Homo sapiens: one gene and its partners. The protein of the gene in region 2 purifies or fractionates together with the protein of the main gene of each other region. This does not show direct contact. Each region holds a gene or a part of one and is shown on either strand. Other genes may lie near its edges.

Evidence for each region.
Region 1: the proteins of CNBP (region 2) and TRIM56 purify together in Homo sapiens (co-immunoprecipitation; 3 studies listed by BioGRID and IntAct, with this or other methods). This does not show direct contact.
Region 3: the proteins of CNBP (region 2) and PUM3 purify together in Homo sapiens (affinity purification with mass spectrometry; 2 studies listed by BioGRID and IntAct, with this or other methods). This does not show direct contact.
Region 4: the proteins of CNBP (region 2) and ZC3HAV1 purify together in Homo sapiens (affinity purification with mass spectrometry; 2 studies listed by BioGRID and IntAct, with this or other methods). This does not show direct contact.
Region 5: the proteins of CNBP (region 2) and BRIX1 purify together in Homo sapiens (affinity purification with mass spectrometry; 3 studies listed by BioGRID and IntAct, with this or other methods). This does not show direct contact.
Region 6: the proteins of CNBP (region 2) and RSL1D1 purify together in Homo sapiens (affinity purification with mass spectrometry; 2 studies listed by BioGRID and IntAct, with this or other methods). This does not show direct contact.
Region 7: the proteins of CNBP (region 2) and GNL2 purify together in Homo sapiens (affinity purification with mass spectrometry; 2 studies listed by BioGRID and IntAct, with this or other methods). This does not show direct contact.

What each region holds. Positions count from the first base shown.
Region 1 is NC_000007.14:101,084,130-101,088,280, forward strand, and holds the start of TRIM56 (E3 ubiquitin-protein ligase TRIM56), read left to right. Parts: upstream 1-1,351; 5' UTR 1,352-1,442; intron 1,443-2,876; 5' UTR 2,877-3,039; intron 3,040-3,182; 5' UTR 3,183-3,183; coding exon 3,184-4,151.
Region 2 is NC_000003.12:129,177,397-129,180,896, forward strand, and holds part of CNBP (CCHC-type zinc finger nucleic acid binding protein), read right to left. Parts: intron 1-3,500. UniProt on the Homo sapiens protein: Single-stranded DNA-binding protein that preferentially binds to the sterol regulatory element (SRE) sequence 5'-GTGCGGTG-3', and thereby mediates transcriptional repression. Has a role as transactivator of the Myc promoter.
Region 3 is NC_000009.12:2,820,096-2,823,595, forward strand, and holds part of PUM3 (pumilio homolog 3), read right to left. Parts: intron 4-3,500; coding exon 1-3. UniProt on the Homo sapiens protein: Inhibits the poly(ADP-ribosyl)ation activity of PARP1 and the degradation of PARP1 by CASP3 following genotoxic stress. Binds to double-stranded RNA or DNA without sequence specificity. Involved in development of the eye and of primordial germ cells.
Region 4 is NC_000007.14:139,071,721-139,075,220, forward strand, and holds part of ZC3HAV1 (zinc finger CCCH-type antiviral protein 1), read right to left. Parts: intron 2,311-3,500; coding exon 2,136-2,310; intron 1-2,135.
Region 5 is NC_000005.10:34,922,211-34,925,710, forward strand, and holds part of BRIX1 (ribosome biogenesis protein BRX1 homolog), read left to right. Parts: intron 1-6; coding exon 7-77; intron 78-328; coding exon 329-378; intron 379-484; coding exon 485-558; intron 559-790; coding exon 791-841; intron 842-922; coding exon 923-1,024; intron 1,025-2,636; coding exon 2,637-2,765; intron 2,766-3,015; coding exon 3,016-3,285; 3' UTR 3,286-3,500. UniProt on the Homo sapiens protein: Required for biogenesis of the 60S ribosomal subunit.
Region 6 is NC_000016.10:11,848,743-11,852,864, reverse strand, and holds the start of RSL1D1 (ribosomal L1 domain-containing protein 1), read left to right. Parts: upstream 1-1,322; 5' UTR 1,323-1,352; coding exon 1,353-1,457; intron 1,458-2,446; coding exon 2,447-2,586; intron 2,587-4,122. UniProt on the Homo sapiens protein: Regulates cellular senescence through inhibition of PTEN translation. Acts as a pro-apoptotic regulator in response to DNA damage.
Region 7 is NC_000001.11:37,569,127-37,571,937, reverse strand, and holds part of GNL2 (nucleolar GTP-binding protein 2), read left to right. Parts: intron 1-2,635; coding exon 2,636-2,811. UniProt on the Homo sapiens protein: GTPase that associates with pre-60S ribosomal subunits in the nucleolus and is required for their nuclear export and maturation.

The DNA of each region.
Region 1 (4,151 bases), on a different chromosome or scaffold from region 2:
ACGGTAAAATGATAATTGTAGAACAGAAGTGGTGGAGATATGGGTGTTCACCGCAATTCTTTCAACTTCTTTGTGCTTTGAATTTTTCATAAAATGAGGCTGTGCATGTTGGCTCACGCCTGTAATCCCAGCACTTTGGGAGGCCAAGGTGGGTGGATCACTTGAGGTCAGAAGTTCGAGACCAGCCTGGCCAACATAGTGAAACCCCATCTCTACTAAAAATACAAAAATTAGCTGGGCGTGGCAGTGAGTGCCCGTAATCCCAGCTACTTTGGAGGCTGAGGCAGGAGGATCGCTTGAACCCGGGAAGCGGAGGTTGCTGTGAGCTAAGATCACACCACTGCACTCCAGCCTGGGCGACAGAGCGAGGCTTTGTCTCAAAATAAAAATTATTTTTTCATGAAATGTTGAGGGAAATCTCCTGCAATGATTCTTTTGTCTTTTTTGATAAAATGCAGGCTTCTCTGCCAACACTCTCGTATCCTCTCCACACACATCATCCTAAATGGGGATGTACCCTTGCTGCTCCCAGTACCTGGAACAGGAACATTCTTCTCAGTGTTCTCCAGCCCTCTATGCCCTCTTACTGTTTTATTTTTTAGACAGGGTCTTGCTCTGTCATCCAGGCTGGAGTGCAGTGTCACCATCATGGCTCACTGCAGCCTCGACCTCCCAGGTTCAAGTGATTCTCCTGCCTCAGTCTCCTGAGTATCTGGGATTACAGGTATGCGCTACCATGCACGGCTAGCGAATTTTTTATGGAGACTGGGTCTCACCATATTGCCCAAGCTGGTCTTGAACTCCTGGGCTGAAGCAATCCTCCCGCCTTCTTTAAACTCATCTCATTGATGCCTTCTCCAGGAAGCCTGTGCTGTTCCCTCAGCAAGAGGCTTCTTACCTGATCCCCCACAGCCTCTCCTACAGCTCAGCAACGGTTTATGGAATGAAAGGCCTCTCTTGAAGCTTTGCAGGCACCTGCCTGCCTGAGGTGTTAGCAAATCTGCAGACCCGCCCTGAGGCCATGTGTCTAGTTACCCTGGTCTCTGAATCACAGATGAGCTCTCATTTCTTCCCACAAATAAACCCTGTGACCCTCCACCCTCTACTCAGAGAACCCGCCCTCAGGTAGTTCCCTGTTTGTGACATACACACACTTAGCCCTGAGGCTGGACTGACAGGCCGACCTGGCTGGTGGACTCCAGCCCAAGCCTGCCAGCTGCCTGCCGGGGTGGGGGCCTTGGCGGGAGAGGACGGGGCCGGGTGGGGAGGAAGGCGGGGCCTGAGGCTGTGCGAGGCGAGTCGGTGTGTCCCTGGCTGGGACGGAAGTTGCACCACAAGTACAATTAGTTTCAGTTTTGTTTCTTTTCCAGGCACCCAGCAACGGCGGCCTCCAGGCCTCAGGCCCCCTCACCATCCTAGAGGTCAAGATCAGCTCTGGCTAGGTAAGGGGTGGGGGGCGGCACAGCTATAGGAAGGACCGAGCGGAGGGAGTAGGGGGAGGGGAGTGGAGAGAGAGCGCGGGAGGAGGAGGAAGGGAAGGAAAGGGAGGGCGTGAAGAGGCACCCGGAAGGCAGGAGGAGAGGGCAGGAGGGAAACTGCACTCGCCTCCCTCCCGCTCCGTGGCCACAGGTCCCCGCAAGAAAGACCCCGTCCCACTCTCTGAGGTCTCCTCCCAGCTCCAGAAAAGGGGACATTCCACCTAGTCTGCCCAACAAGTAGGTCTCAGCCACTGTGCCAGGAGCTCGGGACTCCCTCCCTCCAGAGGTTTCTGGAATGCATTCAGCAGGAAAAGCTAAAAGAACAGGACTCCAGGAGATAAGCCAAGGCCAAGTCTATCAGAGGGTGAGCCAGCAGCGGGAAGGGGACCAGCCCTTCCCCTAGCGTTTTTTCTGCCCGCTCCAGAATCCGCTTTAGAAACTGTTAAATGCAGAAAGTGGGGCCTCCACCACCCGCGATGCTGCCCCAGGTCTAGCAGAAGACAGGTGTAAGGCCAGGCGGGTGCGGTGGCTCATGCCTGTAATCCTAATGCTTTGGGAAGGCCGAGACGGGAGGATAGCCTGAGGCCAGGAGTTGGAGACCAGCCTGGGCAACATAGCAAGACCCCATCTCTACAAAAAGTGATAATTTTTAAAAAATGGGCTGGCTGGGCCCCTGGGCATGGTGGCTCACGCCTATAATCCCAGCACTTTGGGAGACCGAGGAGGGCGGATCACCTGAGGTCAGGAGTTCAAGACCAGCCTGGCCAATAGGGCCAAACTCCATTTCTACTAAACATACAAAAATTAGCCGGGTGTGATGGTGCGCACCTGTAATCACAGCTACTCGGGAGGCTGAGGCAGGAGAATCACTTGAACCTGGCAGGTGGAGGTGGCAGTGAGCCAAGATCGCACCACTGCACTCCAGCCTGGGCAACAGAGTGAGACTCTGTCTCAAAAAAAAAAAAAAAAAAAAAAAAGGCTGGGCATGGTGGCACATGCCTGTACTCCCAACTACTCAAAAGACTTGAGTCTAGGAGTTTGAGGCTGCAGTGAACTACGATCACGCCACTGCACTCCAGCCTGGGTGACAGAGGGTGACCCTATTGCTAAAAACTAAAATAAAATAAAAAGAAGGCAGGTGTATGGGGCTTGGAGGATTAAAGCCCCCTAAGCTACTGCAAGATCCTACCCCAACTGGCAGGACCTAGGCATCTCTGCCCACTGGGATCCCCGTCTGTGTCCTTACTGCCTGCTCCTCGCACCCTGGCACCCTATACAGCAGGACCCCAGTACCTGTGCACACAGGAGGGCTTCCACCATGTTTGCCACAAGGCCTGTGGACTGGGGACACTGAGGATTCGATTATTAGCTAAGGCCAGGGACTCCTGGTCTTGTCAGTTCTCACAGGTCTGACCCAACAAGTAGCACTGACATTTTTACGTTTGCTGGATGTACACACGGAAGTGGAGGAGGAGGAGGAGAAGGAGGAGGGCAGCTCCTTAGCTCAAGAGCAAGTGGCCCAAGGCCTCAGAAGACTAGAAGGAAGTTCCTGGCCATTCAGGTGAGACCTCAGGTTCCTTCCCGGCCATTTGGGTCAGCCCCTAGCCCTGGGGATCCGTGGGGCTTGAGGACGGGCGGTAGAAGCTAGAGGGTGAGCTGGTGAAGGTGCCTTCTCAACTCTGATCCTGACGCCTCTGCCTGCAGCATGGTTTCCCACGGGTCCTCGCCCTCCCTCCTGGAGGCCCTGAGCAGCGACTTCCTGGCCTGTAAAATCTGCCTGGAGCAGCTGCGGGCACCCAAGACACTGCCCTGCCTGCATACCTACTGCCAAGACTGCCTGGCACAGCTGGCGGATGGCGGCCGCGTCCGCTGCCCCGAGTGCCGCGAGACAGTGCCTGTGCCGCCCGAGGGTGTGGCCTCCTTCAAGACCAACTTCTTCGTCAATGGGCTGCTGGACCTGGTGAAGGCCCGGGCCTGTGGAGACCTGCGTGCCGGGAAGCCAGCCTGTGCCCTGTGTCCCCTGGTGGGTGGCACCAGCACCGGGGGGCCGGCCACGGCCCGGTGCCTGGACTGTGCCGATGACTTGTGCCAGGCCTGTGCCGACGGGCACCGCTGCACCCGCCAGACCCACACCCACCGCGTGGTGGACCTGGTGGGCTACAGGGCCGGGTGGTATGATGAGGAGGCCCGGGAGCGCCAAGCGGCCCAGTGTCCCCAGCACCCCGGGGAGGCACTGCGCTTCCTGTGCCAGCCCTGCTCACAGTTGCTGTGCAGAGAGTGCCGCCTAGACCCCCACCTGGACCACCCCTGCCTGCCTCTGGCTGAAGCTGTGCGTGCCCGGAGGCCGGGCCTGGAGGGACTGCTGGCCGGTGTGGACAATAACCTGGTGGAGCTGGAGGCAGCGCGGAGGGTGGAGAAGGAGGCGCTAGCCCGGCTGCGGGAGCAGGCGGCCCGGGTGGGGACTCAGGTGGAGGAGGCGGCTGAGGGCGTCCTCCGGGCCCTGCTGGCCCAGAAGCAGGAGGTGCTGGGGCAGCTACGAGCCCACGTGGAGGCTGCCGAAGAAGCTGCTCGGGAGAGGCTGGCGGAGCTTGAGGGCCGGGAGCAGGTGGCCAGGGCCGCAGCCGCCTTCGCCCGCCGGGTACTCAGCCTGGGGCGAGAGGCCGAGATCCTCTC
Region 2 (3,500 bases):
CTCAAAGACATCTGACTACCCATCTGTGTCTTATTTGTAAAAGGGAAATAATAAAACTGATGTGTGTGGTAAGAATTGTTACCTTGTGCTTAATAGATATTCAATTTAAAAACCAAAGTTTTGGTCTTCTGAGTACATATTCCTTCCACTTTCGCCAATTACCTTGGATTGCTTACAGAGAGTAGACAGAACTCAGTCCAATGTCTATTACATAGCAGGTTTAGAGTGAGGCTAACTGCTTATACTTGTTTCCCACCTTACAGTCTATTTCCTGAATGGAATGGAGAAGAGATTAAGAGGAGAAACACCGGTGATTTCCAAATCAGTTCACATTTTCAACCACCAGACATCAAGATATTTGTCCTAAGTTTCCATTTTTGTGTATCAAATGTTTATGACACAAACCACTTTAAAGGGTGGTAGGAGCACAGGGCATGTCAGGCAAGAGAAGAAATGACTAAGATAGTCAAGATAAGGTCTGGGCCGGGCGGGGTGGCCCACACCTCTAATCCCAGCATTTTGGGAGGCCGAGGCAGATGCATCACCTGAGGTCAGGAGTTCGAGACCAGCTAGCCAACATGGTGAAACCCTGTCTCTACTAAAAATACAAAAATTAGCTGGACATGGTGGTGCATGCCTGTAATCCCAGCTACTCAGGAGGCTGACGCACAAGAATTGCTTGAACCCAGGAGGCAGAGGTTGCAGTGAGCCAAGATCGCACCACTGCACTCCAGCCTGGGCAACAGAGCAAGACTCTGTCTCAAAAAAAAAAAAAAAAAAAAATAAGGTCTGACAAGACTTAAGATTTACTGTGAGGAGCCATGTATGCTAAACTAAGAGGTGTAACTATTTTACACATTTTGAACTTATCTTGGAATTAAAGAAACCACAAATGGTTAGTATACTAATTTGTCTTCCTTAATGTCAGTACTTGTACCATACTATTGATACTAAAAACAAATATAGTAAACTACTAAAATCTAACAGTATGTGGTCAAGACTAACAACTAGGGTTCTAATAAATAGAATGTTCATAACTCTGTCCTAGAAAATACATTTAAAATAAAGTAGCAACAGGCAAGTTGGAGATAAAAATGACACTAGCAAAGTAGGGTATGATTCTGGCTATCTTTATTATTTTATATGGTTTTCTAACACAGCTGTACACATTCACATTTGTATATATGCTTACTTTTCGCAAGCTCAGGGTTATCCCTGACTCATTCATGTTGTTCACTTAACTGCATTTAGACCATACTGGAGCTTTTGCCCTCTGAATGTATGTAAGTATGCACATTATTATGCTCCGTTAAGTCAGTTTACTGTCCCAACATGGTACTGAAACACTTCAGATTTTTTTTTTTTTTGAGACGGAGTCTTGCTTCGCCCAGGCTGGAGTGCAGTGGCACGATCTCGGCTCACTGCAAGCTCCACCTCCCAGGTTCACCCCATTCTCCTGCCTCAACCTCTCGAGTAGCTGGGACTACAGGTGCCCACCACGACGCCTGGCTACTTTTTTTTTGTATTTTTAGTAGAGACGGGGGTTTCACCGTGTTAGCCAGGATGGCCCAGATTCTTTTAATAAAAACGAACTATGGGGGCCGGGTGTGCTGGCTCACACCTGTAATCCCAGCACTTTGGGAGGCAGAGGTGGGTGGATCACCAAAGGTCGGGAGCTCAGGACCAGCCTGACCAACATGGAGAAATCCCGTCTCTACTAAAAACACAAAATTGGCCGGGTGTGGTGGCCCGTGCCTGTAGTTCCAAATACTCAGGAGGCTGAGGCAGGAGAATCGCTTGAACCCGGGAGGCAGAGGTTGCGGTGAGCCGAGATCATGCCATCGCACTCCAGCCTGGGCAACAAGAGCGAAACTCCACCTCAAAGGAAAAAAAGAAGAAAAAAAAAGCAATGAAAGGAAGCAATATACTTTCTGTATTACCTGCATTCCAGCCAGAATAATGGAAAACAGAGTACTTACTCGGGAGCAATTCTGTATTTTTATCCTGGTTCCTGAACTTACTGCTTGACCTTGGTTAATTACATCCATTTCCGCCTGCCCTGATTACTTCTTGAAGAGTTTTAACAGCTGGATATCTATGAGTCAGTCATTAGTAAACATATCTATAATCTTACAACCTCACGAGTTATGTATTCTTGCTCCATTTTAATGACAAACTAAACATCTGACACTGGCCAGGGGCAGTGGCTCATGCCTGTAATCCCAGCACTTTGGGAGGCTGAGGAGGGAAGATCACTTGAGGTCGGCAGCCTGGCCAACATAGTGACACCCCATCTCTACTAAATATACAAAAATTAACTGGGCGTGGTGGTGCATGAGGCAAGAGAATCGCTTGAACCCAGGAGGTGGAGGCTGCAGTGAGCCGAGATCATGCCATTTGCACTCCAGTGTGGGTGACAAAGCGAGACTCCGTCTCCAAAAAAAACTAAAAAAACAAAAATTAGCCGGGCGTGGTGGCACACGCCTATAGTCCCAGCTACTCAGGAGGCTGAGGCAGGAGAATGGCTTAAACCCAGGAGGCAGAGGTTGCAGTGAGCTGAGATCCTGCCATTGCACTCCCGCCTGGGCGACAGAGCAAGACTTTGTCTCCAAAAAAAAAAGAAAAGGAAAAAAAAAGTTAAGTGGTAAAGTACACAAAAATGCTATCGTAATATATGACAAAAATGCTATTGTGTAATATTTTTAAGGTAGGGAATTATACCAATTCAATCTCTACTTCAAAATATTACATAAAGGTATTACTACTATATATCTAGTAACTAAGAAAAAAAAAAGCCACGCACATTTGAATTGTAATGCTGTAAGTATTCATTCTGTATTTCTCTTTAGATAAAAATCAAAGTAAAACTAATACTGATAGCTTTTTAAAAGATCTACAGTCATAATAATTTTGAATTCATTCACACAGCTTTCTTGAATCTTAAAAAATATTTTCTTTAACTTCATGGCAGAACTTAGGAGTCTCACCAAACACACAAACACTGGCAACTTGCTTCACTAGTTAACACCTCATTTGTATTTATGGAGCCATTCCAGGTGATCACTGTAGCACTCTCATATTCCTAATTAACAAAATCCTTCTAATTACAACTTAAAATTTGGTGGCCTCAAGTTCTCACTTTATTATCTCAGTAGTTTTAAACATGAAAATGCTGCATAGCTTACTGCAATCACTCAATGGCATTCCCTTGCTGCTGCAGCATCTGACACTGCCAGAACAGGAGTTCTATTAAGTGAGACAGTAAGGAAAGAGCGTTCTCCACATAGCAGGCCAGGATGCCTTGGCATCATTCTTCTGGCTCTCTACTTACTGTCAGGAGGCTAGGAAGAGAAAAAGGAACCAATCTTTTTTTTTTTTTTTAATTTTTCATCCCTGCAAGGAAAAAAAAGCAGAATCTCTCTGTGGTCAAATCTTCAGCCAATAGACAAATCATTCCAATTAGTCCAATGGTGGTTTCACTGCTTTTAGGCACCAGTTTG
Region 3 (3,500 bases), on a different chromosome or scaffold from region 2:
GCCCTGCAAGAATTGGAAGCCAGCAAAGGTTAAAAACAAGTGCATAGATCTTCCCTCTTATTTCACACATGGAATATCTTCATAAAGGTAGAGCGAGACTCCGCTCAAAAAAAAAAAAAAAAAAAGATTACCTACATTGACAACTTGTCTAACATAACAAGATGAATAAAAGCCATTTTAATGAACTTCCTCTCTTATCACGACCTCATTAATTATATTCTAGAGGTAAGGTTGATTTTTTTTTAAAGCACATTATTCATTACCAAATAGTCTAAAACTAATACCTATTTACATAGGTTACTGTTAATGAATAGCTACTTGAAAATTATACTTAAAAGTTCAAGTTATAAGATTAACTTCAAAAAACCTACATATATAAACACATATATGATACTCCAATCATGAAAAAGAAAATATAAACTCATACAATTTTACACACATACACACACACACACGATATACATAATACATGTACACAGAAAATCCTGGAAGGCAAGGCATTGTAATAGTCATCTCTGGGTTATACAAATGATTTTTAATTTTCTTTTCTATATTGCTCAATTTCTTTAAAGTGATCTCACAAAATTAGAATATAAATATGAAAAAATAAACTAGAAGAGTATAATTATACACTGAATGAGAATGATATAAAAATCATTACTTTAAAAAAAGTATAGCTGCATGAGATCACAGAAATACACATGTGGCTTTCACAACACTCATCTTTTGAAATAAAATTATTTCCATGATGCTAATACTGTTCCAAACATTTAAAGAACACCTACTTTATGTTAAGAACAAAAACAAAAGAAAACAAAAACCTGTTTCCAGAGCTTGTGGCATGAGTATCCTGGATGTTGATATAATTGTTTCAAACTCTGATAGGAATTTGATTTTTGATAATAGCCCACAATCATTCAGAGCCAGATCTGATAAATATCACAGATAATACAATTTCAATTAGAAACAATAACGAAGTTGCTAACTGTAAAGTCAAAAAGACAAACTGAAGACAAACAACAAAGGTCTTACTATACAAAGACCAACAACCAACTAAAAATGGGCAAAGCCAGGTGCGGTAGCTCACGCCTGTAATCCCAGCACTTTGGAAAGCTGAGGCTGGTGGATCACGAGGTCAGGAGATCGAGACCATCCTGGCTAACAGGGTGAAACCCCATCTCTACTACTAATACAAAACATTAGCTGGGCATGGTGGTGGGCGCCTGTAGTCCCAGCTACTCAGGAGGCTGAGGCAGGAGAATGGCGTGAACCTGGGAGGCGGAGCTTGCAGTGAGCCCAGATCGCGCCACGGCACTCCAGCCTGGGCGACAGAGCAAGACTCTGTCTCAAAAAAAAAAAAAAAAAAAGAACATGAAGAGTCAGATCACACTAAAACAGAAGTACAAATGTCTTTAAATGTATGAAATAATGCTTTATGAACTAATTAAGGACAATAATTAAAACAATGAAATGCCATTTATCCTATGGGTGATGGTGAAAACCTCTGACAATAGACTAATTTATCAAAGGTTTAGGGAAAAGCAGGCACGCTTTTATGTTGATGAGAATGTAAAGTGGTTCAACTTCTTTGAAGAGCAATTGACAACACCTATACAAATTTAAAATGCAGGTATGAGCTGATCCAGTGATTCTAGTTCTAGGGATTTATCTTGCAGACGTGTTTCCATGTAAGTACAAAGACTTACATATGAATATATTCACTGGGGTACTAATTGTAATTTTAAAAACTCTAGAAACTACCAAAATGCCCAACAGTGGGGACTGGTTAAATAAATTATGGTATAGGCACACGATGAAATATTACAGTCACTAAGAAAAGTGAGGTAGACAGATGTATGTATATTGAAATAAAATGACCCATAATATGAATTAAGTGAAGGAGACAAAATATAGAACAACGTGCCTAGTACAAAATCACTGGTTTCAGTTCTCTTAACTCGGACACACATAAGCATAACCAAGCATAAAATATTTCTAGGTGAATACAACAGAAGGTGGTACAGAATTGAATGTAAGTGAGAAACAGACAAATCCACAAGTATAGTTGGAAATTTTAACATGTTTCTCTCAGCAACTGATAGAACTAGAAAATAATAAGTCAGTAAAAACACTGATGGTATGAACACTGTCAACTACTTTGATCTAATTGACAAATATAGAATACCCCACCAAACAACTCTACAATATATTATTTTCAAAATACTTAGACCATATGTTAGGCCATAAAACAGGTCTCAGTAAATTTAAAAGGAACAAAAGAATATAGAATATATCCAGAAACCCCCAATATTTGGAAATTAATAATTCCAAATAATCCATGGATCAAATCCATGGGTAACGTTAGCTTATCACCCCTTTAGAAGTAACTCTTCGAGATTTAAAAAGATATGTACTTAGTGTTAAATTACCTGACATAAACAAACTGTAGAACTAAAACAATATAATTTTATTATTTTAAAATGTTATACTCTTAATACCTTTGTGAATTTTCTATTAACATTCTAGTTTTTACTCATTTTAATGTAAGGTATTCAAATTAGAATGTCACGCAAAAAAATTTACTTAATATTGAATTATGAATTATAATTATGAATTATATTTATATTTATAACATAATAATATAATGTTATATAATATATAACATTATAATTCATATTATAATTATGAATTATGAAATATATATGAATATTGAATTATGAATTATAAAAAATATGAGAATTCCATATTTCACTTTATTATAGGAACGTTAGCTGCCTTCTGAATTCTTCTAATTTCTAGCCCAACAGAAGACAATAGTCAAGTACACAATCACACAGCATTAATTTTAACTTGTTTGATTTAGTATTTCAAACAAGTTGAAGTATTCCCCAGATGCTAGTAGTTCTCACTGGATGTTTTCAAAGGATAAAGTAGTTGATTACTACATAATTTTAGTTCATCAATAAATTAGAAATTTGTTATCCATCAAATATATAAAGTATAACTCAAAAATTAAAATTGTATTCACTACATATATTCTAGTTACAGTACACCATAGCAACAGCATGAAAAATTATTTAATAACTAAAAACATATAAACACTATTTTTGAAGCAACAAATCCCCCAGAAAAAACTTTTGTACCTATGAATTTCATTAGGAAAATTGTTACTGCATTTCTAAAGAGCTATAAAATTTAACAACTAAAAATTTCCATAACCACACTGCAAATTTATTCTTAAAAAAAAGATACATTTTAATTTCTTTTATGGTTTTGGTCATAAGGAAAACTACTATCAAGTTTCTGAAGTGCAATCTGGCATCATTTACCCAGAGACTAAAATATGTACATACTGTATCCAGGCAGTAATTCCCATATTTAATTAACATGACTGGACAAATTCACCAAAAAAGCTAGTAAATATCAGGTTTTCAAAGAATATCTAATAAAAGTAGAGAACTATCACAATACAATGTTAAATTAAAAAAGGAGAAAAGAAT
Region 4 (3,500 bases), on a different chromosome or scaffold from region 2:
GAAGAGCAACAAGGAGGGGTCCAGGAGACAGCTCTGAGCCCATATCCTATTCCACCAGGGCAGCCCTGCTCTACTCTAGTTGGCTCGTTTAGAGTCTTTGAAAGATGGTTTGATAAAATGTATCTGCTGCTAAGACAGTTTGGAAACCAATATGCTGCTGAATTCATGGTAGGGCTGTTTGTGGTTGAGGACCTCACCACAGCACACAGGGTTCCCGCCATGTGGCCCACTATAGGAGGTGTTTTTCTCAGGCCTCACTAACATAACAGAGTAGTGCCTCTCCCAAGTATTTTGTTTGCTTTGGCAGTTAGGCAGCTCAGAGCCAAATGTATAGCCCACTGACTCGTAATTATTAGTTCCGTGCAAAAGTAATCAGTTTTTGCCATTAAAAGTAATTACCACCAACCCAAAAGTAATTTTACACCAACCTAAATATGTAGAACCTTACGCTGCCATTCCTTTGTCCCTGCATTATCTTTTTTTTTTTGGAATCTCACTTTTGTCACCCAGACTGGAGTGCAGTGGTGCAATCTCGGCTCACTGCAACCTCTGCCTGCAGGTTCAAGCGATTCTCCTGCCTCAGACTCCTGAGTAGCTGGGATTACAAGCACGCGCCACCACACCCAGCTAATTTTTTGTATTTTTAGTAGAGACAGGGTTTCACCATGTTGGCCGGGCTGGTCTCGAACTCCTGACTTCAGGTGATCCACCCCACCTCGGCCTCCCAAAGTGCTGGGATTACAGGAGTGAGCCACCGCACCCAGCCCATGCATTATTTTTGGCTTCATTTTAATCTCTTGCTTTCATTTTCTGTTTCTCATCACCCTGATTCCATTACCTGCTTAAGGTCTGTTTTCTCTCTCTCTTTAATCCTATGAGTTAAAGGGAGGAAGGGACACTGAGACAGAAGGACAGAGGCTCTGCTCACCTAAACTTCCCTCCCTATTACTATGCCCCCACTATGGGTCAGCCTAGGATCTTCTAGTTCCAGTCCTTTAAGTCCATCTAAATCCAGACTCTGAATGAATAGTAGTGACTATCTGTACCAGATGTGGTTTCACTGCTTGAGTGAATTAACACATTCCCTGGTCTAATTAACCATGCCATCATCCATACAGTCCTTTAAGTTCTCACTCTCACCCTCTTTTCCAGCTCAAAGCAGTAGTCTCTGTACATTTTATGTGTTTATACATAGAAAGCTATCTCAAGGTTCCACCCTCCCCTCTCATGGTGAGGAAAGAGGGAAGTGCAGCTGACATGTCTCAAGCGGTTCCTTAAAAATAATTAATATATGGCCGGGCGCAGTGGCTCACGTCTGTAATCTCAACACTTTGGGAGGCCGAGGTGGGCGGATAACCTGAGGTCAGGAGTTCACGACTAGCCTGTCCAACATGTTGAAACCCCATGTCTACTAAAAATACAAAAATTAGCTGGGTGTGGTGGTGGTGCATGCCTGTAATCCCAGCTACTCGGGAGGCTGAGGCAGGAAGATCGCTTGAACCCAGGAGATGGAGGTTGCAGTGAGCCAAGATAACGCCATTGCACTCCAGCATGGGTGATAAGAGTGAAACTCCATCTCAAAAATAAATAAATAAATAAAAATAAAAATTAATATATACTTTAATGTATGACTGCAATTGGAGTACATGTTTGCTGAAAAAAAATTGAATATAGCTGTGTACAAAGTAAAAAAATACCACTTCCTCTACCACACTCCACGGGTAACCATGTAGGCTTCAAACATTTTATTAATAGTGTTCTTTTTATTTTATTTATTTATTTATTTTGGAGACAGAGTCTCAATCCATCCCCCAGGCTGGAATGCAGTGGCGAAATCTCAGCTCACTACAACCTCCACCTCCCGGGTTCAAGAGATTCTCCTGCCTCAGCCTCCAGAGTAGCGGGGATTATAGGCGCCTGCCACCACGCCTGGCTAATTTTTGTATTTTTAATAGAGATGGGGTTTCACCATGTTGGCCAGGCTGGTCTCGAACTCCTGATCTCAGGTGATCCACCTGCCTCAGCCTCCCAAAGTGCTGGGCTTACAGGCATGAGCCACCGTGCCCAGCCAACAGTGTTCTTTTTAAGTTGACAAGTTTAAACAAGAGCCCCCTACAAGGAGGAACAGTGCTCACCTCTTCTCCATACTGAATCCATGTGCCAGATTCATTCTTCCAATACCAAATCCATTTGGTGGTGAAGACAGAATTGGCTGGCTTGGTGACAGAAGAAGGAGTGGAGAGGCGTCGGATGGGAAAGGAATCACAACTCATTACCCGAAAATTGATTGTATAACTTCCTACAGAACAGCTGAGAGAGAAAAGTATTAAGTTAACATAATGCTTCATTGACCCCTGTTTTCTACAATCTCGTCTTCCCTAATGAGAGCACAGAATTAAACTTTCAGGGCTAAAATAGATCTTCAAGTTTTCTTTCCATGGCTCCAGGTCCTACACATAAAAGAAAAACGGAAACGCAGAGAGGAAAGTGACTCGCCTGCACCACATAATTAATGGTGTTACATAATGTATTCTTCCCTCAGAAAATATCCCAAAATAAAACTGTGCCCACAAAACTCCTGATTGGCTCAATGTTATAAAGTAAGTTAGAAATTCGCATTTGGTCCATTTTTAAAATTATTTATTATTATTTAAATCGTTATCAAAATGTGGAGACCCTTGCAGAAAATTGGCAAGGTTAAAGTGATTTTCATAATAACATTAAACATTATTTGCTTTTTTCACTTTCATTCTCTCAGGAATACACGATGAAATTTTCCAGAGGCTACACAATATATGATTTCACAGCAGGTTGAATAAAGAAGCGGATATGAGAATCTAGTTATCTTCTATTATGCCAGACATTAATTTGCAAAAATATAAAACTCCTCTCAATAAATTTTTTGTTTTGGAAAACAGTTATTTTATAATTATCCATATAAATATTATATATAAATATGTAAATAAATACACACAGTTATATACCTGGGTATGTATATTAAATGGATATACATGAATATGTATATAGTATTAAATATAGTTACATGAAACATGTTCATTATGTTAACATATAGCAAGCTTATTCTTATTTTTAAGTGAATCAAATATATAATTGTTCTCAGTTTTAATTTTTAATATGGTAAATATTGATAGCTATATTCCACACAAACAGAAATTCTTTGGGATCCTGAATACATTTTAAGTGTTGAGGAGTCCTCTGACCAAAAAGTTTGAGAATTGCTGCTCTAAGAAAGACCTCTTAGATCAGTGGTTCTCAATCAGGAACGATTTTGACCTCAGTGGGTATTTTACAACATCTGAAGACATTTTGGGTTAGGACAACCAGTGGGGCTGGTGGGGGGGTGGTGCTTCCTGTCATCTGTGGATTGAGGCTAGGAATAGTGCTAAACAGAATCTGGCCCAAAACGTCAGTAGTGCTGAGGTTGAGAAACCCGGCTCTCCACTTGCCTGGGAGCGGAAATATAGACCTAGCAACCAGAA
Region 5 (3,500 bases), on a different chromosome or scaffold from region 2:
CTTTAGGTTTGTGAAATGAAGAACTGTAATAAATGCATCTATTTTGAAGCTAAGAAAAAACAGGATCTCTATATGTGGTAAGAGAATGTATTAAGATTTTGGTTAAACTCATTTAAGTGGATTTGTTCTTTGTACCTTTTATGTTATAGACTCCTAGTGTTTCATGTTAAGGGTTGAGAATGAAGCAAACTTTTGATTTCACGAAACTTGATACCTTTAAAGAAAATTAAATGTATAAATATTATAAGCATATTATTTATGGTGAATAGGTGGTAAGCATTGACTACATTTGCTAATTAGTTGAAAAAGCTTACTCCATATCTTTCAGGCTTTCAAATTCACCTCACGGACCATCTGCTAAATTCCTTGTTCAAAATAGTAAGTTGACTCAATAAATTTTTTTAGATGAGGAAATTAAAAGTAATCTTTTGAAATAGTTGTGCAAAAGTTACAACTATTTTTGTTTTTGTTGTAATTTTTCTAGTTCATACCCTCGCTGAACTGAAGATGACTGGAAACTGTTTGAAAGGTTCTCGGCCCCTTTTGTCTTTTGACCCTGTAAGTTTCTCATTCAGTGTATGAGGTCTAATTTTCTTATCTGGCATGGTTGTTTTTAGTAGATATAGTTGTGTTATTCAATTTAGTTTCACCCCCACCTTGGTTTTATGGATTATCAATTCTTTCAGGTACATTTATAATGAGGTTATAGCCAAGTTATAGAAACAAATGAGCAAACAGTTTTAAACAAGGCAGTCTACTGTTAAATAATATGCTTACCTTATTTTTATAGGCTTTTGATGAATTACCACATTATGCTTTGTTAAAAGAACTCTTAATTCAGGTAAATATCTTTAAAATTAGCTATCCAAAATATACATGATATATCTTGGAATAAGGAACTAACATACACTTTTTTAACTAGATCTTTAGTACACCACGGTATCATCCCAAAAGCCAACCATTTGTGGACCACGTGTTTACTTTCACCATTTTGGATAATAGGATATGGTTTCGGAACTTTCAGGTAAGCTTTACTTGATTTTTAATTATACCTTTTTTTTAATTGAGTTTATTTATTTATGTTTTGAGACAGAGTCTCGCTCTTGTTGCCCAGGCTGGACTGCAGTGGCACAATCTTGGCTCACTGCAACCTCCACCTCCCGGGTTCAAGCTTCTGCTCCCTCAGTCTCCTGAGTAGCTGGGATTACAAGCACCCATCATCACGCCTGGCTAATTTTTGTAGTTTTAGTAGAGACGGGGTTTCGCCATGTTGGCCAGGCTGGTCTCAAACTCCTGACCTCAGGCCATCTGCCCGCCTTGGCCTCCCAAAGTGCTGGGATTCCAGGCGTGAGCCACTACACCCGGCCTAATTTTTTTTTTTAGAGATAGAGTGTCGCAGTGTTGCCTAGGTTGGCCTTGAACCTCCTGGCCTCAAATCATTCCTCCTCAGCATCTTGAGTAGGTGGGATTGCAGTTGTGAGCCACTGTGCCTGGTCAATTTTTAGTTAAACTTTTAGATAAGGATATACAGGGTTTGCATACACAAAAAATGCAAATAATTCTTTTGTTTTAAATAGCTTCCTTTTCCCTAAAGAGATTGCTGCAAGTAACTATGTACTGTCTTATATCTTAAGTGAGCTCTACCTACTTCTATTCATGACTGTTAGTTGATACAGAGTATGGATTTCCTAATAAGCCATTATATATTTAACTTTATAGAAAGGGAATAACTTGAAGATCCATGAGATACTTGGGTTCCTAATTTGTAGAAAGTGCTGTAAAGGATACAGTAAAATAGAAGTTTCTCTCTCAAAGCTTAGAAGTTTCTCTCTCAAAGCACCTCAAAGGTTAAGACCTAGCAAAATGTAATTGCTCTAGAAGGCATTCAATGGCAGCGGTTAGATGATGAGTCACACAGTGACTCATTCAGGAGAAAAGAGGAGGTGACTCTAGAAATCTTGAAGCAGGAGTTTGGCACGATAAGTGCAGAAAGATGAAGAGGTGGAAGAGAACAGCAAGAACAAAATTTTAGACAGTATATGACATAAACTGAGCTCTTTTCTGCATATTTTATATTGGATACCTGGCATGTGAGTTGAACACATCATCCTAACCTCTGAGGGTAGACATGCCTGAACTAATAGATAACATAAATATTTGTTGTTCGGAAGTTGCCTTTTAATTCCATAATCAGTAGCTATTAAATAAATTTGACTACATATCCTTTTAATCTAACTTGAATTAGATTTATAAAAACAATTTAGGGATTGATTTAAGTTTCAAGAGTTCCCCCATAATGTGCTTTAATACATTTTGTTAATAGTGGTTACTGTTTTAAAATCCTGTTTAACCAGTTTTTCAAGGATATATGCATTGTGACAAGCAAGATGTGAACCAAAATCTAATTACTCAATTTTAAAAGAACTCACTGAAAAAACATTTTTCCATGACAACTTCCTATAAGTACTAATAGATTTCAGAAAATATTGATGATTTGCCATTTACCAAGTTTCACCCCCACCTTGATTTTATGGATTATCAATTATTTCAGGCACATTTATAATGAGGTTATAGCCAGTATACCTTTTGGGAATAACGTAACCAAACCAAAATGAAATGTTTCCTTTTTATTAAAGATCATAGAAGAAGATGCTGCTCTTGTAGAAATAGGACCTCGTTTTGTCTTAAATCTCATAAAGATTTTCCAGGGAAGTTTTGGAGGACCAACTTTATATGAAAATCCTCACTACCAGTCACCAAACATGGTAAGCGGTTGTGTCATTCAGTAGTCTTCAATGTACCAGAACCCTTTGGCCAAAATGATTCTGTGAAGTAATTGCTGTTTTATTACCTGTGAAACTGAATTTGGTTTTTGCTGCATAGAAACTTGGAAATTACTCCCTTTTTTCATGACACTGGCTGAAAGGATATATGGTTCATAACTGAAAGTCTTTGCCTTATATAAAATGTTTATTTTTATTTCAAAAGCATCTAATCTTTTTTTTTTTTTTTTAGCATCGGCGTGTCATAAGATCCATCACAGCTGCAAAATACAGAGAGAAACAGCAAGTGAAAGATGTGCAAAAACTGAGAAAGAAAGAGCCGAAGACTCTTCTTCCACATGATCCCACTGCAGATGTTTTTGTAACACCAGCTGAGGAGAAACCAATAGAAATACAGTGGGTAAAACCAGAGCCAAAAGTTGATTTGAAAGCAAGAAAGAAACGGATTTACAAAAGGCAAAGAAAAATGAAACAGAGGATGGACAGTGGGAAAACAAAATAAGTCAATGGAAACCTGATTTGTTTTTCAGTTACTTTATATTTATTTTGTATTCAATGTGTAAATACTTTTATTATCTAATACTATCTTACGTCTAATTAGTGTAGCATTTACAAGAAAGAAAAATTAAGATCTTAAAATCAGTGATTATCTTTTTCTAAATAAAATATCACCAGAATTCATCAGTTAATTTCTGATTTCTTTTTGAAGTTTGTGTT
Region 6 (4,122 bases), on a different chromosome or scaffold from region 2:
AGATCGTGCCACTGCACTCCAGCCTGTGCGACAGAGCGAGACTCCATTACAAAAAAAAAAAAAAAAAAAAGGAAAAAAATTAATTAAACCCATCCAACAAGAGAAAGGAGAAGTATCTCCTAAACATGCCTAGAACATCTCTGGAAGGTTCCAGGAGACACTGGTAAGGGTACCTCTGGGGAGGCGGGTGGAGTGGGAGGAAGACATTACAAAGCAAACCTGTCCTACCCAAGGGCCGCGTGCGGCCCTGGAGGCCAGGCTTTGAATACAGCCCAACACGAATTCGTAAACTTCCTTAAAGCATTACGAGATTTTTTTTAGATTTTTTTTTTAAAGCTCGTCGGCTATCATTAGTATTAGTTTTATATATGGGCCCAGGCAATTCTTCTTCCAGTGTGGCCCACGGAAGCCAAAAGATTGGACTCCCCTGTTCTAAGGTATTCCATTTGTCAGTTATCCAGCCTCCACTCCTAACCTGTTTGTTTAGCGACAAGGTCTCACTCTACTGCCTACGCTGGAGTGCAGTGGCGCGGATCAGAACTCACCGAGCCTCGAATTCCTCAAGATCCTCCATCCTCCGCCTCCCAAGTAGCCGGGACTACAGGCGCGCACCACCACGCCGGCTAATGTTTATAATTTTTGGAGAGACGGAGTCTCGTATATGCACGGACTGGTCTCCAACTCCTGGAATCCCTCCGCCTCGGCCTCCCAGAGCGCTGGGATTCCAGACGCCAGCCACGCGCACGACCAGCCACGCTTATTTGTACAGGATCTTACCTCCCGCCTCTCTGCGAGACCAGAAGCTCCTAAGAGACTGGCCCAGACTCATCTTTCGGTCCCTCATGCTGCTTAACGTGGCAGGTCGGGTGGCTCCGGGTGGCTCCCGTGCCTTATATTTCAGGGACTCCTCACCAGCCTGGGGTTGGCGTCGCCTAAAGTCAACGGGCAGGTGGGCAGTGGAGCCAGGATTCCGCGCTCTGCCCATGCCACGCGCGGCCTTCCCGGAGGCGGGGACCGTGGAGTGTGGAGGACCCCACTGGGCCTCCTGACGGGACTCTTCTCTCGCCTCAAGGCGCTTTCTTGATTTCTATCTAGTAAGAGTGAGAGGACACCCAAGCTACTCCCCACAGCTCATGGAAAGCTGGAGAAAAGCGGAAGAGCAGGTGCCTCCTCAAAGAAGGGATTCTGACAGCAGCCACTGCCCCGGAGAGCGAAACCCCACGCTCTCCCGGAAATGACGCACAGAGGCTCGGTTCCCGCCCCCTCGCTTCCGGGGCCGGGCTTGCTCGCGCGTGCGCACCAGAAGCCAGCAGTGGGGTTGCACACGCGCCTCTTCACGAGGTGGAAACAAGATGGAGGATTCGGCCTCGGCCTCGCTGTCTTCTGCAGCCGCTACTGGAACCTCCACCTCGACTCCAGCGGCCCCGACAGCACGGAAGCAGCTGGATAAAGAACAGGTGAGTGGTTCCTGGGGAGGGTGGCTTGGAAGCAGTGTGGCGGTTACCTCGTGAGGCGCAGGGTGCCGGAACCCGAGTGCGTGCTCGGCGGACTTCCCCGGGGCTGTGGGACGGTCGCTGGCGGGCCGTGTGCCTCAGCTGTCTCTCCCCTTTACACACGTGGGTGGGCGCCTGCTTTCCCTGGTCCTGCGGCCTGGCGCTAGTGAATTGGGTTGCAAGTGTGCTGTGGAGCTAGATGAGATAGACCTGGCGACCTGGCTTAGCTTCCCTATCATTAGCGCTTGACCGAATCGCTTAGTTTTGCAGGTCTGTTACCCGTTATTTAAAGTGGGCCCTTCGGCTCCCCGTTATCCAGGATCGGGAGAGGTAATGAGTGTAAAGCGCTTTGGCCTGGTACATGGTAAGAAGGTGCTCAGTAGGCCGGGCGCGGTGGCTCACGCCTGTAATCCCAGCACTTTTGGAGGCCGAGGCGGGTGGATCACCTGAGGTCAGGAGTTCGATACCAGCCTGGCCAACATGGTGAAACCCCGTCTCTACTAAAAATACAAAAATTAGGTGGGCGTGGTGGCGGGCGCCTGTAATCTCAGCTACTCGGGAAGCTGAGGCAGGAGAATTGCCAGGAGTTCTCAGTAAATGCTAAATGCATTTTGCTTTGCGTTTTTCCTGGGATTACTGCTTTCATCATTGAGGGCAGGAGGGGCACGTTTCCCTCTAGCCCAATCTCTTTAAGTAGAAGAGGTGCCCTTCTGCACACAGTACTGGAAGTGGGTACTTAGGCATGTTTGATGGATTCTTAGATTTCTGTGAATATAAACTGCAGGATCCTAATAGATACGGTTATGGAGGTTACCCCTTGAAATAGAAGTTGGAAGGGAAAAAATAGAAGGTGTGGGAGGGGGCAAATGCTAAATTAGATTGAGAACATTTCATTTATTTGTGTAAGTTATTGTGAAAACATTTCACTTATTTGTCTAATTTCCACTTTGCAGGTTAGAAAGGCAGTGGACGCTCTCTTGACGCATTGCAAGTCCAGGAAAAACAATTATGGGTTGCTTTTGAATGAGAATGAAAGTTTATTTTTAATGGTGGTATTATGGAAAATTCCAAGTAAAGAACTGAGGGTCAGATTGTAAGTTGTGATTTTCTACCTTTGCTGTTTTTATCTGTGTGTTTATTCTTTGTAACTCGAACAATTGCATCATGGTTACTAATGGAAACTTTGCAAACTTATAATAAAAATCTGACGTGAAGTAAAACAACTATGTCCAAAAGAACCATAGAGGCTTGATGTGGTGGCTCACACCTGTAATCCCAGCACTTTGGGAGGCCGAGGTGGACGGATCACCTGAGGTCGGGAGTTCAAAACCAGCCTGGCCAACATGGTAAAACCCTGTCTCTCCAAAAATACAAAAATTAGCCAGGCATGATGGCGGGTGCCTGTAATCTCAGCTACTCGGGAGGCTGAGGCAGGAGAGTGGCAGTGAGCGGAGATGTCTCCATTGCACTCCAGCCTAGGCGACAGAGCAAGACTCTGTCTCAAAAAAATAAAAAATAATAAAAAATAAAAGAACCGTAGAAATTCAGATGTGCTAAAATTTTCTAGAAATTTCACCAGTTTTCTTAGAGCTTGGTGGACAGCTAACGTAATCAGGTCTGTTGAATCGAAAACGTGGTGTTCGAAAGAATAAAGGTGGAATAAGTTAAACAGCTTTATTTTATTTTATTTTTTTATTAGAAACTGTTATCTTTCCATGTCAAGCAAAAATTCTTTGGGGCTACAATTTATTCCTTTGTACAGAGACTATTAAAAACTGCAGTGAATTTCTGTCTATGGAAAAGAAATCCATGGTGATTATACAGAATGCTTCTTCAGAACATAGGTTGTAAGCATAAGAAATGAGTTAAACCCTTGTATTTTATTTTCTGTAAGATGTGGCATAATTGTGTTTGCTGGTCCCTCTTGGTTTAGTCCATGTTTTTGGTTTCGATTCTTTTATCTCTCCTTTTTTTTTTTTTTTTAAGAGACGAGATCTTGCGCTGTTGCCCAGCTGGAGTACAATAGTGAGATCTGTGTTCACTGCAACCTCAACCTCCCTGACCTGACTCAAGTGATCCTCCCACCTCAGCCTTCCAAGTAGCTGGGACTACAGGTGCACACCACCATGCCTAGCTAATTTTGAAATCTTTGTGGAGATGAGGTTTCACTGTGTTCTCCAGGCTGGTCTCGAACTCAGGCTCAAGCAGTCCTCCCTCTCAGTCTCCCAAAGTGTTGGGATTACAGGCATGAGCCTCCATGCCTGGGCTGTTTCAATTCTTAAAAGTTATGTTATGCTGGGCATGGTGACTCATCCCTGTAATCTCAGCACTTTGGGAGGTGAGGTGGGTGGATCATTTGAGGCCTGGGAGTTTGAGATCATCCTGACCCAACATGGCGAAATCCCATGTCTCCTAAAAATACAAAAATTAGCCAGACATGATGGTGGGCGTCTGTAATCCCAGCTGTTTGGGAGGCTGAAGTGCAAGAATCATTTGAACCCAGGAGGCAGAGGTTGCAGAGACTCCAGCCTGGGCGACAGTGAGACTCCCATCTCAAAAAAAAAAAAAAAAGTTATGTTGGCTGAGTGTGGTGGCTCACACTGTAATCTCAGCAGTTTGGGAGGCTGAG
Region 7 (2,811 bases), on a different chromosome or scaffold from region 2:
GAGAGGGTGTCATGGTGGGAAGCCATTGGAGGTTTTGAGTTAGCAGCTGGATTCTAGGGTCATTCTGGATGTCCGTATCACTGCTGTCTTGGGACCCTGTGTGGAAACACTGGCATTGTCTTCAGCCCTTCCTCCGTATGTAGTCAGTAAGTGTAGATAAGTAGTTCAGATAATTCTTAAGAACTATTGTAACCATAATAGATTTGTTGCCCAATGCACACAGCAAGTCAATATGCTGAGACACCACCAGGTTGCAGCAGAGAAAGAAGTTTAACCGTAGGGTCACCAAAGGAGGAGATGGGAGGAATCCTGAAATCATTTCCACGAGGAGTTTGGGGTTAGGGTTTTAAGGGTTTTGGAGTGGGCTGGAGTGAGGGTCATTGGTTGGGTGAAGAGTGCAGGGTGAAGTCACGGACAGGGAGATGAAGAAGCTGTGTTCTCATGCAGATCCCGTTTCTCTGGGGATCTTCAAACTGGTTGCTGGAATTAGGGATCTGAAAAGACATTTTAAGCAATCCTTAAACAAAAACCTTATGATTCTAATGTCAGAGATCTTGCCTATAGGAACAATGGGGGTGCATATCAATTCTTACATAGTCTTATGACCCAAATGTCAGAAATCCTATCTATAGGGACAGTGGGGATGCAAATGGTCAGTACCTAGTGTTCAGGAACTTTTAGCAACAAGGATATGGGCCAAAGTGCCCCCTAATTAGTGCTTAATTATAATTGTATTTCTGTCCAGAACTTGGCAGATACTTCTTGTCAACCCTTTGGAGGCAGTTTCACTCTCATATGCCTTACTCTGTGATTCTGTTTTTCTTTTTTGGTTAAGAGCAGAAACCCCTTCAGAAACTGAAAGCCAAAAATTGCCCTTCCTAGAAAAATGTATGTATAAATTTTGTGTGTGGTTTCCTGAATTTTATAGTTCTGTACTTATTTAGTGATTTGCCCGGCCACTCTTGACTTTAGAACATCACTTTTAAGTTCTCTGAGTTTTTGTTGCAAGGATAAAATGATATTATACATGTGAAACACCAGTAGAAAGCTTGGCACATACTTATCTTTGCGGTTACCTAAAACAGGCCAGTCATTTCAGGGTCCCCAGACTTAGTTCTCTAATGAACTCTCTTCAATCACAGAATTCCCCCTCCTTACCTTATACTCTTGCTTCAGGATGCCTCCTATCTTAGTCTGTTTTGTGATGATGCAACAGAATACTACAGATTGGGTAATTATAATGAACAGAAATTGTTTTGGCTCATGTTTCTGGAGGCTGGGAAGTCCAGTATCAAGGCACCAGCATCTGACAAGGGTCATCCCATCGTGGAAAGTGGGAGGACAAGAGCAAGCAAGAGAGGGTCAAACTTGCTTTTATAACAAACTCACTCTTTTTTTTTTTTTTTTTGAGACGGAGTCTTGCTCTGTTGCCCAGGCTGGAGTGCAGTGGCACGATCTCGGCTCATTGCAACCTCTGCTTCCTGGGTTCAAGTGATTCTCCTGCCTCAGCCTCCTGAGTAGCTGGGACTACAGGCATATGCCACCAGGCCCAGCTAATTTTTGTATTTTTAGTAGAGATGGGGTTTCACCATGTTGGCCAAGCTGGTCTTGAACTCCTGACCTTGTGATCTGCCCACCTTGGCCTCCCAAAGTGCTGGGATTACAGACGTGAGCCACCACATCCGGCCAACAGACTCACTCTTAAAAACGAACCCATCCCCGAGATCCATTAGTCCATTCATGGGGATGGAGCCCTCATGATCTAATTACCTCTTATTAGGCCTTACCTACCAACACTTGCTGCATTGGGGATTAAGTTTCTGTATCAGTCCATTTTCATACTGCTATGAAGAAATACATGAGACTGGTTAGTTTATAAAGAAAAAGAGGTTTAATGGACTCACAGTTCCACATGGCTGGGGAGGTTTCACAATCATGGCGGAAGGTGAAGGAGGAACAAAGGCATGTCTTACATGGCATCAGGCAAGAGTGTGTGTCCAGGGAAACTGCCCTTTATAAAACCATCAGCTCTCGTGAGACTTAATTCATCATAGGAGCGGCATGGGAAAGACCTGCCCCCATAATTCAATTACCTCCCACCCGGTCCTTCCCACAACACATGGGGATTATGGGAGCTACAAATCAAGATGAGATTTGGACACAGCCAAACCATACCAGTTTCCAACATATGAATTTTGGGGGACACATTTAAATCAGAGGACCTCCTCAAATGCCTCTCTTAGTACTGTTCTCATCTGTAACATCCAGCCTGGCCTTCATTTTTATGTAGTTGTGTGTGCTGATTTTGCATGTGCTTATATCAGCAGCCCCCTAGGGAAGGTCTAGGGAGCCTTGCTTTTCTATGATAAATCATTGGTTGGTTTTAATGGTTTAAATAGTCTTAGTTGGTTCATCCTGTGGAACTACACATGTATTCCTTTGATCCTAGTACTGATCTCTGGGCTTAATGTACATTGGTTTAAAAATACATTAATGAAATGACTCAAATTTGGGTGTTTTCAATACCTTCCCTTAGTCCTGAGAAGAGGACTGTTTAAGAGCAAGATATGAGTTCAGAAATTCCATTTTTCATTTTCTGATTCTATTTATTTCCCCCATTTCCACCCCTTAATAGCTTCTACCCTCCTCATCTTTGGAAGTTGTCCCAGAAGCAGCCCAGAACAATCCAGGGGAGGAAGTCACAGAAACTGCAGGTGAAGGGTCAGAATCCATCATTAAGGAAGAAACAGAAGAGAACAGTCACTGTGATGCTAACACAGAGATGCAGCAGATTCTCACACGAGTTCGGCA